Linked DNA regions of Homo sapiens. The protein of the gene in region 1 interacts with the protein of each later gene in a pairwise test. Each region holds a gene or a part of one and is shown on either strand. Other genes may lie near its edges.

Region 1 (7,902 bases):
ATGCATTCTCACTTGTTTTTACTGGTAAGACTGAAAACTTTCACCCACTAACCTTCAATTTCTATCCATGGCTAATTCATTGGTAATTTCTTGCAACTTTCAGAAAAACAGTAATTCTCAATTTGACACAGGTTTGCCAATATGCATTTAAAGACCTCTTACACTTCAAACCTTGGACTTGCAGATATGAAAAATAATAACATTCTCAGTATTCTACTCTTCACCTTTGCCCTGCCCTGAGCACTATCTAAAAACCAATGACAGAAATGAATTGCAAACATAGCATGAAGCACTGCTGCAATTAATCAACCCAGAGCCCAAGGGAGGAATTGTTTCTATTTTTAAATGCACTGTTACTTTAAGGGAAAAGTCTGTGGAGAAATATGAAACCAAGCTGCATAATGAAAATAAAAATGCATTTGGTGTCTTCATCTGTGCAAAGACAGTAATCCTAATGTACAAGGAGCACTGTTTTGTTGACTACTCAGTTTGTCTGTAAATGAAATGACCGGTACTCAAGACAGAATCCCACAGAAAGCTCATCTGCTATTCAAAGAATTAGATCCGTCAGAAGGACAAAACACGAGAGTACCCATATTTCAATGCTATTTTTATAACTCCAGATAAGGGACTATCGTAAGTAAGCAGATGAATAGATCCCAAAATCACCCTTCAAATCTTTACCTAAAAGATCCTGATTAGTAACTAACGTGGTTCAGCCCGAAAAATGATCAACTGATTACTTAGCATTTGGAACCAACTGTCCACAGTTATAGATTGTACCAAATCCCACAAAATCAAATCTGTTTCTCTTCACAAATGACAACACTTCATGTCATTAAACAGTAGCTAACAGTCGCACTGCTTATGGTTAAGAGTGACAAGGAGCAGGTGCCAAGCCAGCAAGGAAAACAAGTAACGGCTACACAACAGGAGCTAAAAAGTATTCTACCTGTTCCCCCAGACTGCTTTCAAGAATCTGACCCAACAGAATTTTTTCCCGAAACAATATGCAGTTTGCGGGGGGGTGGGGGGAGGGGACATTCGTTGGTGATATGGGCATCTAATTTAATCTGTAAATATTTAATGTACTCAATGAGTTTACTTACTATCACCATGAAATATGCTATACTATCTACACTGCTATAAATGCATCTAAAAATACATCCATTACTAGACAACATTCAGTACAATGTACAATAAACACTACATTCAGTGTTAAACACAACATTTTACATATAGCTTAGCTATTTAATATCACCACCAGAATCTGCTAAAGGTAGCAGAATGTTTGCAAACTGGATAAAAACTGCTATGCTCAACACGAAAAGCAAAGAATCCCCAATCTTATCGCCTCATGATTTCTTTCCCCAAATTTGGCAAAACTGAGCTTGAACACCACACATTATAGAATGGAGGCATTGCTTCTCTAAGCAATAATGTCACAAACCCTGCTTCAGAGTCTCTCTTCAGTGAAAATCTCTGAAGAAGGAAATTCACTAAATTGTATTCCATCGATCAACAGGTGATTCGTGGAAACACAAACTCATATTCATTTCCAATGAAAATTAATATTGTAAACTCTCCCGTTTTTTCACATATATATATTTACAAGCTACTGCATTATTATATTGAATGAATTCCAACCGATTTCTTCTCAGAGGCTTACTAGAAAAATGCCAAATATTCAAATTATTTTGGGGCGTTAACCCATACTGTTGCATGGAACAGAACGGAATTAATAAGGATCCAACAGTTACCACTTTTCAAATGCAAATATGTTGCCATCTAGTAAATACAGCCCCTTTTTAAACATCCCTCAGTGTCTATACAGTTCAGGGCCCTACTTTTGTTTCTTTGAAAATCAAAATTCGCGCATTACATTGAGGCATTATCTCAACTCAGCAACAACAACTAAAATAGATACTAACTAGTCCAGCCTGAGTCTACATCGTACAAGACTTTTGCTTTATTTTTTCCTCCCATTTTAGACACACTGTCCCTAAACAATTCTGCCAAAGGAAACAAACCCTGCAGTGATGAAAAGAATCACGGACACTGGGTTCCACGAACAATAAGGTCGTGGGCTGGTCACCTGCCCGCCTCGGGCCTCAGTTTTCCTGTCTGTAAAATGTGGCCGCTGGACGAATCACCTATGGGGTCCCATCCGGCCCTCTCCCTCCCGGGTGCCTCGCAGCCCGCCCGGGCTCAGCTGACTGGTGCTGTGGCCAGGGTGCCCTGCCTGCCGCCGCTCTAGATGGAGGAGAAGGGGGGCGAGGGAGGAGAGGAACTTGGACTTGCAACAGCTTCAAACAGGAGCCGGCGACAAACTTGAAGCCGTCCTCCTAACAATAGGAAAGAGCACTCCCATTTTCCTGGCTCAAACTTGCGGGACCCCGCGAGGCTGGATCCTCCCAGCCGCCCTCTCGGAACCCGCTTTACCTTTCTCCCTGTTTGGTGTTAGAAGGAGGAGGGTGCAGGACCGTTTGATTCCCTTCCATCTCCACCACGCACTTGGTGTTCAGTTCCAGTTCTGAAAGCAGAGAGAAAGGGACGTTGCAAAGTCCAGCATCCGCGCCTCCAGCCCGCCCGCCCGCCAGCCGCGCCGAGCGGGGCTCCGTCCCTGGAGGCGGCCGAGCCTGGAGACGGCGCCCCGGGCACCACGGCCAGCGCGGACGCCGCCTCCGCCCCGGCCCCCCGGCCCCGGCCGCGCTCTCGCCGTCCCGGCCCCGCAGTTTCTAAAGTTGCCCCCGCCCTCAGCCCGAGCAGAAATAAAAAAGAGCGGAAAGCTCCTCACCTCGTCGGTTCATGGGCCGGACCCGGACGGCAACTTTTACCTTGGTATCCGACATGTTGGCTGCGCTCGCCCGGCCGCTCGCCGCGCCCGCTCGGCCTTAGGCGGCCCCTCACGCGCGGCGCCGCCGCCGCTGCAGCCGCGCGCCCCTCGAGCGCGGCCGCCGCCGCTCCGCCGTGAGCTCCGAGAGGCAGCGCCGAGGCGCGCGGGCCATCCCGGGGGAGCGCGACGCGGGGCACGGCCGCGGCCCGGGGAGGGGCGGGCGCGCGGGGCGGGGCGCGGCGGCGGCGGCGGCGGCGGCGGGCGGGGAGGAGGCCTCGCCGGCGGGCCCAGGCGCAGCTCTAGCCGCGCCGCCCCAGCCGAGACCGCAGCGCCGCGGCCCCTCGCGGCTGCCCGGGGCCCCGCGCCGCCATGTTCCGCGCCCGTCACCCGCCGGGGCTCGGGAGAGGCCGGACACGGCCACGCGCGGCGCCCCCTGGAGCGGCGGGACGGCAGTGAGAGGAGCGGCGAGCAGCGCGGCGCTTAGGGGAGGCTGGAGTCCGGGGCGGGACGCATTGTTTCCCCAGGGGACCTCCCAGGCCAAGCCTGCACCGGCGCCCGCGGGGCCCCCCCCCGGACACCGCCGTGAGCTCGAGCCGCCTTCTGGGGCCGCTGCCACCCGGAGCCCCGGGACGGCAGCAAGGACCACGGCTCGCCGCGCTGGGTGCGCAGGCCTTCCCCTCCGAGTCCCGGCACGCCGCCCCCTCTGTCCCACACGGAGCCTGCAGCGGTATTTTAAGATCTCTGTGGTGAACCGAGACTAGAAATGAATCTGTGAATCCACCACCGAAACAGTGTATGTTTGTAAATAGTGCTCTCCCTTCCTTTCCCGGCCTCTCTTGTCTCGGGAGGGATGTCAAGTGGGCTGGGAGGGCCATTAACTCTTACATAAGAATTTAATAGCAATGGATTCTGTCATCCTGCCAAATGCAGACCTCGCTGCCAGGGCGGAACTGGGCGAATCCGATTTATTCTGTTTGGTTCAACAAGTGCTTAAGGGGCGCTCACCGAGTGCCAGGCATTTTGAAGCGTACAGAAGTCAAAAATCCAGAGTTTAGATCCAGGAATCTTTCGATTTTGCTTAAATCTAGAAATCCACTTATTGGAAGATGCATTGAGGTTTTACTGTGTGCAGGGTGCTGTTGAGGACACACAGAAACATGAATAGCATGATGCAGAGGCACACGCTAAGGTGGAAGAGAGGGCGTGGAGACTTATTATGCTAGACAGTGTACGGCAGGTGCTAGGAGAGGGGTCCGTCCGCCTCCAACCGAGGTGATGCTACGCTTGACCCTCGAACAACACGGGTTTGAACTGCACGAGTCCACTTACACGTGGCTTTTTTTCAACCAAAATCTGATTGAAAATACAGTATTCGTGCTCTGGCACAGTGCCTTACGCCTGTAATCCCAACACTTTGGGAGGCCGAGGCGGGAGGATCACTTGAGGCCAGGAGTTCGAGACCAGCCTGGGCAATGTAAAGAAACCCCATCTTGCCAAACATAAAAATTTAAAAAATAGCCGGGCATGGTGGCAGGTGCCTGTAGTCTTAGTTACTGGAGAGGCTGAGGTGGGAGGATCACTTGAGCCTGGAAGGTTGAGGCTGCAGTGAGCCATGTTCGCACCACTGCACTCCAGCCTAGGCAACAAAGCAAGACCCTGTCTCAAAAAAAAAAAGGGAGAAAAAAGAAAAGACAGTATTTGGCAGGTTCAAAACTGAGAGATCCAACTTTTCCTATTTGTGGGTTCTGCAGAGCTGACTGTGGGACTTGAGTATGCATGGTTTTGGATGTTCCTGGAACCAGTCCCCTGTGTACACTGAAGGACAAATACTTCAGCCCCACCTTATTGTAGAGCCAGCTATCTCAGTCTACCTCTGAAGGGCCTGTTGCATCTTTCCTCCTCTCCATTCCTGCTGCTGCAATCTCACTTTACCTGTCCATTCACTTGTTCAACAAATGTGTTCTGAGCGCCCTACTATGTTACAAACACTGTTGTAGGCTTTAGGCTACAGGCTCTCAGCTGCTGCTCAGAAAGAGGTGAAATTTCCAGCCCTCTGAGGCTAAGAATCTAGGTCTGTGCTTACCTCTTCACTTTTGGGCTGCTGAGACATCCTGTTAACCCTCCTAGCTTTGCCTCCTCTAATCACTCCTAAATCCAGCTTCCAGACTGATTTTTCACAAAATTAAAATTTTATCCTTTAATCGTGCATGGTATTCTATTGTTCAAAAAACTCTCAGGCTGGGCACGGTGGCTCACGCCTGTAATCCCAGCACTTTGGGAGGCCGAGGCTGGCAGATCACCTGAGGTCGGGAGTCCGAGACCAGCCTGACCAACATGGAGAAACCCCGTCTCCACTAAAAATACAAAATTAGCCAGGCGTGATGGCACATGCCTGTAATCCCAGCTACTTGGGAGGCTGAGGCAGGAGAATCGCTTGAACCTGGGAGGCGGAGGTTGCGGTGAGCCAAGATCGCACCGTTGCACTACAGCCTGGGCAACAAGAGCCAAACTCCACCTCAAAAACAAGCAAACAAACAAAAAACCTCTCTGTTTAATATTACCTCCCACCATTCCTGAAATTCTTTATCCAGGACCTTTTCACAAGCAAGATACCATCCCTATGCTAAGCCATTGCTCTGGTAGTTTCTATCAGTGGGAATTGTAGAGGGTTGAATTTGTAACTCCCAAAAAGGTATGTACAAGCCATAACCTCCAGTACCTGTGAATGTGACCTTATTTGGAAACAGGGTCTTGGCAGAAATAAAATTAGGATGAGGCCATACTGGGTTAGGATGGTCCCTAAATCTAATGACTAGTGTCTTTTTTTTTTTTTTTTTTTTTGAGACAGAGTCTCGCTCTGTTGCCCAGGCTGGAGTGCAGTGGCACGATCTCAACTTACTGCAACCTCCACTTCCAGGTTCAAGCGATTCTCCTGCCTCAGCCTCCCAAGTAGCTGGGACTACAGGCATGTGCCGTCATGCCCAGCTAATGTTTGTATTTTTAGTAGAGATGGGGTTTTGCTGTGTTGCCCAGGCTGCTCTCGAACTTCTGACCTCAGGTGATCTGCCCACCTCGGCCTCCCAAAGTGTTGGGATTACAGGTGTGAGCCACCGCACCTGGCCTGACTAGTGTCTTTATTAGAGAAAGGAGAGGGGGATTTGGATACACAGGGAGGAAGACCATGTGAAGACAGAGGCAGAGATTGGAGTGATGCAGCCACAAGCCAAGGAACACCGAGGTTTGCCAGGAGCCACCAGAAGCTAGGAGGAGGAAAGGAAGCCTCCGGAGGAAACACGGCTCTGCTGACACCTTGATTTGGGACTTCTAGCCACCAGAACTCTGAGACACTAAATTTCTGTTGTCTTATGCCACCCATTTCATGGTCATTTGTTACAGTAGTCTTAAGAAACTAATACAGAGGCCAGGCGCAGTGGCTTATGCCTGAAATCTCAGCACTTTGGGAGGCAAAGGTGGGAGGATCACTTGAGCCCAGGAGTTTGAGACCAGCCTGGGCAACATAGGGAGACTCTGTCTCTACAAAAAATAAAAAATTAGCCAGGCGTGATGGCGTGTGCCTGTGATCCCAGCTACTTGGGAGGCTGAAGCAGGGGGGATTGCTAGAAAGCCTAGGTCAAGGCTGCAGTGAGCCATGATTGTACCACTGCACTCCAGCCTGGGCAACAGGGTGAGACTCAGTCTCAAAAAAATAAAGAAAGAGAGGAAGGATGAAAGAAAAGGAAGGAAGGAAGAAAGGAAGGGAGGATATACAAAATTTAATCAATCCCTTCTCTGTCTCATTTTCTCCTTCTCCCTCATTCTCTGCCAGATCATGAAAGCCTTGAGTGCCTAAGAAATTTCATGTTTATTGTAAAGGCAATAGGAACTGAATGAAGCATTTGGATTTGGAGCCAGGGATTGACATATTCAGAGCATTGATTCAGGGTAATTAATTTGGCAACACTGTATCCATCCAGAGGACTATTGTAGTCATCCAGATGAGGTGATGATATCATCATCCAGAGGTGATGATAGCATGAACAAAGCCAATGATAGCACAAATGGAGCAGAAGGAACAGACGCAGAACTTACTGCGAGAAAAGTGGAACAATTTAGCAACCAATGGGATGTGAAGATTGAGGGAGGCAAAGGATTGCAAGTGACTGAGAAAGGGATTGGGAGGATGATGGCCCATAACACCACGAATAGTTGAGAAGAAGAATAGGTCTTAAGGTGAGAGGGGCATGATTCATTTGGTGTTACAGGTTAGAAAAACAGTTCCCATTGGTTCTTTGCAGAGTGACTCTTCTTTCTGCTTTCCTGACCCTTTCCAACTTTAAAGACCAGATTAGTCCTCACCTCTTCTATGAAGAGTTTACTAGTCTGGGCATGGTGGCTCATACCTATAATCCCAGCATTTTGGGAGACTGAGGTGGGCGGATCACTTGAGTCCAGGAGTTCAAGACCAGCCTGGCCAACCCAGTGAATCTCTGTCTCTACTAAAAATACAAAAAAATTATCTGGGCATGGTGGCACATGCCTGTAATCCCAGCTACTTGGGAAGCTGAGGCATAAGAATTGTTTGAACCGGGGAGAAAAGAGGTTGCAGTGAGTCAAGATCATGCCACTGTACTCCAGCCTGGGTGACAGAGTAAGACTCTGTCTCAAAAATAAATAAATAAATAAATAAATAAAAGTTTACTAAACATTTCTTTTTCAAAACAGTTTAGCCTTACATCATTAGGAATTATGTCTTTTTAGCGTTTGAAGGGCCTTTGGGAGTCCTGTGGACCTTTTTACAACAGCCCCCAAAACGGCCACCCATTCCGTGCTTGGATTCCGCTGACAGAGTTCTCAAATTGGAAGAGAAGCTGAACTCAGTCAGGGGACTCCTCAAGTTCTTCGCCTAGGAAAGGCCTCCATGAAGAATCAGATTTGCATCCCTGGGCATTCCACCTAGTGACAGAAGTGCTGCCTTCTCCTGCTTCCCATGCCAAATCTAACTCCCTTTTTTTTTTTTTTTTTTTTTTTTTTTGAGATGGGGTCTTGGCTGTATCACCCAGGCTGGA
Region 2 (7,026 bases), on another chromosome or scaffold:
TTTTTTTCCAAAATCTCAGTCTTTTCATTCTATTTCATCATTTCATCTAGTCACAAACTAGATGCTTCATAGTTGTATATATATAATTAACTCTAGAAAATATCTGCTATTTATTCCCTTAATAGTTCATATAGAAGTGATGAACATCTTTTCATTGTTCATCTTTTCAAAATTTACTCCTTGGTAACTCCACAGTTCTAAAATAATGTATGAAGCCAAGTCACACAAGCTTTATAATGTATTCATAAATAATTCCAAAATAAACATATGCAATACAGTATAGAAGAAGGAGGGGACATTGAGACAATTCCTAAAAGAGATATGTCTATTTAAGAAGAAAGATAGGAAATGAGAGCAAACAGGATTTGTAAATGTGCCACACTTTAAATTTATTTTAAAGTCAAGGATTTCAATTGACTACATATAAATACAGTACCCAAAAAGGCAATGCTAATAATTATTAGTGCATATAAAAAATGTTTTTAACCTAACTATATCCAAGCATTAAAAGCACAACTGAAGAAGCCAAATAATACTGTACGCACAAAAGTGTTCCTTACTCAAGTAAATATGTTGATAGTATGGTACATCAAACTATTTATTACCTGTATATTCCAGAACAACAGTGAGAGCCTAAACAGAGAACACTGTAAATCATTTGCTCAAATCAATGAAAAAGCAACCAAATAAAATTCTCTGGTAATAATAATGACCAATTGCTATGCAACTGATTGTATCACAGTGTAAATGTAAATAATTAGCATAAGTTTTTCAGACTACTGAAGTAAGTGGACCAACCATTTCATGATCATATTTCAATTATGTAATTGACCATGAAATATTCTAATTTTTTAACCTGTAAAGATTCTACTCAGCTATCACTATAAAAATAGAATAGTTTATTTACATAAGAAAACATATTTCCTTTTTTTGTTTGTTTTTTGAGACAGAGTAGCTGGGATTACAGGCACCTGCCACCACGCCAGGCTAATTTTCGTATTTTTAGTAGAGACAGGGTTTCGCCATGTTGACCAGGCTGGTCTCAAACTCCTGACCTCAAGTGATCCGCCTGCTTCGGCCTCCCAAAGTGTTGGGATTACAGGCATGAGCCATTGCACCTGGCCAAGGAAACATATTTCCTAACAGAGTAATAGAAATTACTGTAAATGGTCACAATATCACTAGAACTGAATTTTGTCCCTTTCAAAAATATGTCAGAATAATAAAGAGAATATAGAAAACAATCATTTTTTTCAAAGTTTTTTAATTGTTACCAATGCCATTTTACTACTTTTTATCTTTTTCATGCAGTTTCAGAAGAAATTAGCAATATCTAACTCTCTTTTCATAGTCATAGTGATTTCAAGAGTTTCAGTCTCTGGGATATAGAATGCTTTGGCACTGGTACATTCCACCAGCTCAGGAAGAGTTATCAACAGCTTCCTAAAAAAAAACAACAAAATAAAACCTTAGCTTCCTAAAATGATGTATCACTTTCAATAAGACAATTGCAAACAACATATGCCACTAGAGTGTTAGAAAACAACCCCCCCCCAATATTTAGATAGTGTAAATATTGGATCAAAAATATGCCTAAATAACACAAACAGTATACCAGTTTTTCTGGACTTAAAAATCCAAGCAGTTGTTTTGGCGCCCCTATTTTTCTCCGAATTGACCTCATTTTACATAGTCTCAGGCTATGTTTACAGGCATAGAAATAGAACTATGCAACTTTTAAGTTTGCTGGACAGATCTGTTGCCACTCATACTTATGTATAGATGCAATGTGGCCGACGGATACAAATTTGAAAATTGGAATGGCTCTATGACACTTCTGCTAACATAGATTTAAGCAGAGTCTCTACCACAGGTGTAGTTTTTGAAACTGAGGCTGGGAATGATTTCAATACCAAATCAATGAAAGTGCTTCTCTCTCCTTGCTTCTGATTCTTTCTACTTACACATTGACAAAAATTCCCTGTGATAGATTGCTAGGTTTATTTTGTGGTTTATAGTTCAGTTGCTGGATAGTTTTATGCTTTAGATGCATTGCTGGGATGAGACATCCATAATTCTGCCATATTGGCATGAATCTAAATTATGCACGGGGTCAGCACATGCTGGTTTTGGAAGAAAATTAAATGCATGAAACACTTGTTACCTCGCATTTTCAGTAGAGAAGGTCTGAGTATCTCTATAAAAGGTGGACAGGATGCTCTTTTAGAAGGTATAATATCCAAATAAGTAAAGGAATATGGTATTTTTAGGGGCACTTATTGGGTTCTTGAATTGAGAACTAGTATGTATTTGAAAACAAAACCCTTGAAAATCAATTCCTTCTTTATTCCTTTGCAAAAACCTGAGTTCAGAAGACTGGGTTCATTAAAAGTATTTATTACACATTTATGGAACCTGAAGGATAAATTTTCTGTGACTCTTGTTCCATTCCATGTGGGGTAGGAAAAACACTTCGCCTGAATACGTTGCCAAACGTAGTGGCAATGCATTTTAATGTAGACTGTAATATTTGGCATCTCAGGAAAAAAAAAGTGAGTGCAAAAACCGTGTAGAGTCCATCCTTTAAATCTGTTTACTATATAGGTTGTGCTAGACTTAGATTTCCTTTATACTTTATTCAATAAATGATAATATATTCACTTTTAAAAGAAAGCAAAGCTTAGTATGGTAGCTTCGTTGCACTAAAAGACAACTATAAATCAGCTGAAGAAGGAGTTCCAATGATAATGTGCACTTCTCTGTCCAGAGAGAAATAAATTCAAAAGAGACAGTTAGTGGCCATTGGAATGATCCATCTACGCCTGCATTTCTGTGTAGTTCTAAGTAGTATGGCTTCACATAATAAAATGTTGAACAGTAGAACTGTACAACTGATTTAGGCTCTTAGGAGAAGGGAAATATTTTCGTCGTCTGTTTTACTGTCTTATTATCTGTACTGAGATTTATATTTAAACAAAATAAAAATTCTCCAAATACTTATCCATGTACAATTCATGGAAGGACATTAATGTATCTTATCTTGGTGCTCCCTTAGTGTCTAGTGGAAGACTTTATAAATGTTGAGTGAATAAATAAATGAATGAGTGAGTAAATAAATGAAGCAAGTATTCAGGTCACCACAAAATAACATTTGAATAATTACCATAGATTAGTACTATAAGATATGAACAAACATTTAAACCCAATACCTCTACTTTTACATTGACAATGTATTTGCATTTTCAGAAGTTACAGTCTAGGCAGTGATCAAAGGTTCATCCAGTGTTAATTTTCATTAGAAATTAAATGCAAACAATAATACATGAATGTAAATACAAAAAAAATCTCTACAGTGAACTCAAGTTTAGAGACTTACATGCTTATACTTATATTAGAGAGTTTAAGTTGATGTTGCTCACAAGAGATTTAAGCAAAGGACATCCTGGTTCCCAGCATATTCGCATAATGAAATTTTTATCTTATATAATTAACAAAATTATTTGACTTACATATCTGGGTTAAAAACCTTTTTAAGGTTTACTGAAGGAGACATAACTATTTTCAAAGAAAGTGCAGAAATAGCTACTGAGCTGCAACTCAACTATTTCATTTAGAAAACTTCTTTTTTAGCTATCAGTCTTTGAAAATCAGTCAATTCCCAATCCAAACTAAAGGAGCACAGCAAATGTGTGAGTAATCTAAAGCAGCACTCAACCAAAAATTAGCTTACATTTGTCTTTAGAATGTGTTATTATTATCACATTCAAGGTATTCATTTATGAAATTCTTAGAATTCACTTAGAAAAATAATGAAATCTCATATGAAGACTTAAGAGATCCCCGTAAATTATCCAATTTTCTCCGTCTTTCCTCCTCTCCATTTACTCCATGTTGGGTATCTACATGCCAAAACAACCAATTGAAAAAAGTGAAGAATTTGGTAAACTGCTTTATTTATTTTGGTAAATACCTGGGTTTTATTGGTAATTCGAATGAAATTGACTATTGTTTGACAGAAACCACTGGTCAATTCAGTTAAAATAAATTCGCTTGTTTCTGCCTTATAGATACAAGAACAGAATGCCCTCTCAAATCTTTCTCAGATTGGATAAACATAGCGTTATATGATGTCAAAGTTAGAAACTAAAGAAAGTAGGTGTGAATATCAATAAACTCGAAAACAAGACACATTCCCGATAATGCAATTTCAGAGAAAAGCATGGCTCTAAAGGATTCTCAAGTATTTAGGAAACATGATAAAATCCTTAATTATATTTTCTGTCTTCTATCTTAGTTAAGCAGGTTTTCTTGAGATGGTACCTCTCTGCACTGCGCATTTAATATATAAGTACATTATGATCCAAAGGACCTAGTGTATAGCCCATGTTCTATGTGGGAAAGTACTTTTAATCCAAAATGTATCCTCACAGAACAAACATCTCATGTTATAAAAATTGTATTCAGTATTTCTGCTGTCTCCATCAATCTTTAGGTAGCTGCTATGGCTGTGCCGTCATTACAGATATCCATCAGAATCCACTAAATGAAAGTCTCACAGACAGTGAGAACTGCTAGGGAAACGGAAATTAACCCCATGGTGTGTAGACATGTGTGTGCTTTTAACAAGCTTGCAAATATCTTGGAAGATTGTTCATTTAACCAATTTTCCTTGTAAAGGTTATGTGGAAGAGTAAATTCGTGTATAAAATGCAACAAAAGGGTACAATACTCCTTGAAGTAAACAGCAGAAATAGTGAATATAATTTTTATAACATGAGATGATTGTTCTGTGAGGATACATTTTTGAAATGATGTAAATAATAAGAAAACATTTGATATATATTTATCTGTAGACCATTTTGGGTTAAATGCATTTACTATAGAAGCCAAGATTAAGCTACATATGCATATTGGGTTGTTTACACATAGGAATCTTTTGTATGAAGGATCTTCTTGTCATTTTCTTGAAGTCCTAAGCTCAACAAAGGAGAATTATAGGTACTGATAATGGAAGGAAGAAAATGTGCCAGCAACTGCCTGCCTCCCAAATCCAGTTTGAAATGTTCATGAGTTACAGAGTTAGGACCATTGCAGTGAACCAGTATGTGCTCACTGCTCTATATCCAGATAAGATGTGCACAAAGCAGTGAGGTATTTAGATAGTAATTGATGGCAAGATCTTTTTGTTGATTTAAATGAAAACACTCAAATTTAACCTTACAGCCCCACAAAATGACAAAAGTATAAAGATATTGCTTCCCTTATGTAATCAATGTACAAAAACCACATATAAGACTTACAACTTAATGGCATTTTCACTTCTAGTTATTTTTTCTGATAGATAAACTGCATCTGGGTGTCAAGAATTGTGTTTTAATAGCATTAACCCACTCCAAATGCACGGATGCAAAGTAGAAAAAAGTCCAAGTATTTCCAAACATATTTATGTTTATATTAATGTAGATCAAACATCTGAATACAAAATTTTCCACTTTTCTTCAGACTTTAGGGGTGATACAAAATAACTGTACATTTTAAAAAATAATATTGACTGAAGACTCTTTAATATTATAATACACTATTCCAGTTCTAAGTTTTACTCACTTCTGAGGAGTACGAAGGTCAAGGATTGTTTCCTGGATATCAATTTGAATATCAGAAGGGTTTGTATTTGGCAATTTAATTTTAGCCTGAAAGAGAAAATGAGAAGAAAAATAGTGATATCTTGGAGAGCAATTAATTTGAAGAATATAAGAATATATGGGGAAAAGAGACTAATATTTATTGTCAACTATGTGCCAGGCTATGCCCTATCTTTATGTCAATCTTGAGCAGCAGAGATTATTATCCCCATTTTACAGATGGAGAAACTACAACAGAGAAATTTAGTGAGTGGCCCAAGGGCAACCTCCTGTAATCTGACTAAGGTTTCTGGCTCCAAAGCTATACAGAAACACTTTGGTTACTTGACTGTAACCTTCATTTTCTGAAGGTACATAGTAGTACACCTGTTAGAGTTGGGGACCTTCAACTGCCTTTATATCAGTTGGCAATTTGTATAAAAAAAGTTTAGTTCTCATGTTGGGTATGAGTTGGTGATGCCATCTAATAGTCTTCTGGCATAAATTTCCATACCACATTTTCTAGGGAGGTGTGGGAGTTCAGGTGTTATGTTATCAAAACAAAAGAGAAATAACAATATGACTCCCACCTCCCCAAAAGGACAACATATTGGTTTAGTAAGATTTCACTTTAAATGTTTCATCTCAATTACCACATGGCCCAGCAATTCCACTCCTGGGTATATACCCAAGAGCACTGAAAACAGGTTTTCAAGCAAAAACATGTACATAATGTTTTTGCTTATAGGAGCCCTATTCATAACAGTCAAAAGGTGTAAGCAACCCAAATGTGCATCAACTGATGAATGGAAAAAACAAAATGTGTTGTATCCATACAATGGAATATTATTCAGCCATAAAAAGGAGTAAAGTACTGTTATATGGATGAATCCTGAAAACATTATGCTAAGTGAAAGAAACCAGGGACAAAATGTCACATATTATAGGATTCTATTTATATGAAATGTCCACAATAGGCAAATTTTTGTTTTTGTTTTGTTTTTTTGTGGGAGACGCAGTCCCGCTCTGTTGCCCAGGCTGGAGTACAGTGGGGCAATCTCGGCTCACTGCAACCTCTGCCTCCCAGGTTCAAGCAATTCTCCTGCCTCAGCCTCCAGAGTAGCTGGGACTATAGGTGCGTGCCACCACGCCCGGCTAATTTTTTGTATTTTTAGTAGACGGGGTTTCCCCGTGTTAGCCAGGATGGTATCGATCTCCTGACCTTGTGATCTGCCCGCCTCAGCCTCCCAACGTGCTGGAATTACAGGGGTAAGCCACGCGCCCGGCCCACAATAGGCAAATCTATACAGACAGAAAAGAGATTGGTGGTTGCTAGGGGCTGCGGAAATGGAGAAGAGGGAAGTAACTGCTTAATGGGTATGGTGTTTCCTTTAGCACTGATGAA

What was found.
Region 2: the proteins of KIF13A (region 1) and DNAAF6 interact in binary tests that used the Homo sapiens proteins (3 or more experiments, as listed by UniProt).

What each region holds. Positions count from the first base shown.
Region 1 is NC_000006.12:17,984,612-17,992,513, forward strand, and holds the start of KIF13A (kinesin-like protein KIF13A), read right to left. Parts: upstream 3,025-7,902; 5' UTR 2,853-3,024; coding exon 2,798-2,852; intron 2,534-2,797; coding exon 2,443-2,533; intron 1-2,442. UniProt on the Homo sapiens protein: Plus end-directed microtubule-dependent motor protein involved in intracellular transport and regulating various processes such as mannose-6-phosphate receptor (M6PR) transport to the plasma membrane, endosomal sorting during melanosome biogenesis and cytokinesis.
Region 2 is NC_000023.11:107,237,586-107,244,611, reverse strand, and holds the end of DNAAF6 (dynein axonemal assembly factor 6), read right to left. Parts: intron 5,691-7,026; coding exon 5,605-5,690; intron 1,444-5,604; coding exon 1,314-1,443; 3' UTR 365-1,313; downstream 1-364. UniProt on the Homo sapiens protein: Plays a role in cytoplasmic pre-assembly of axonemal dynein.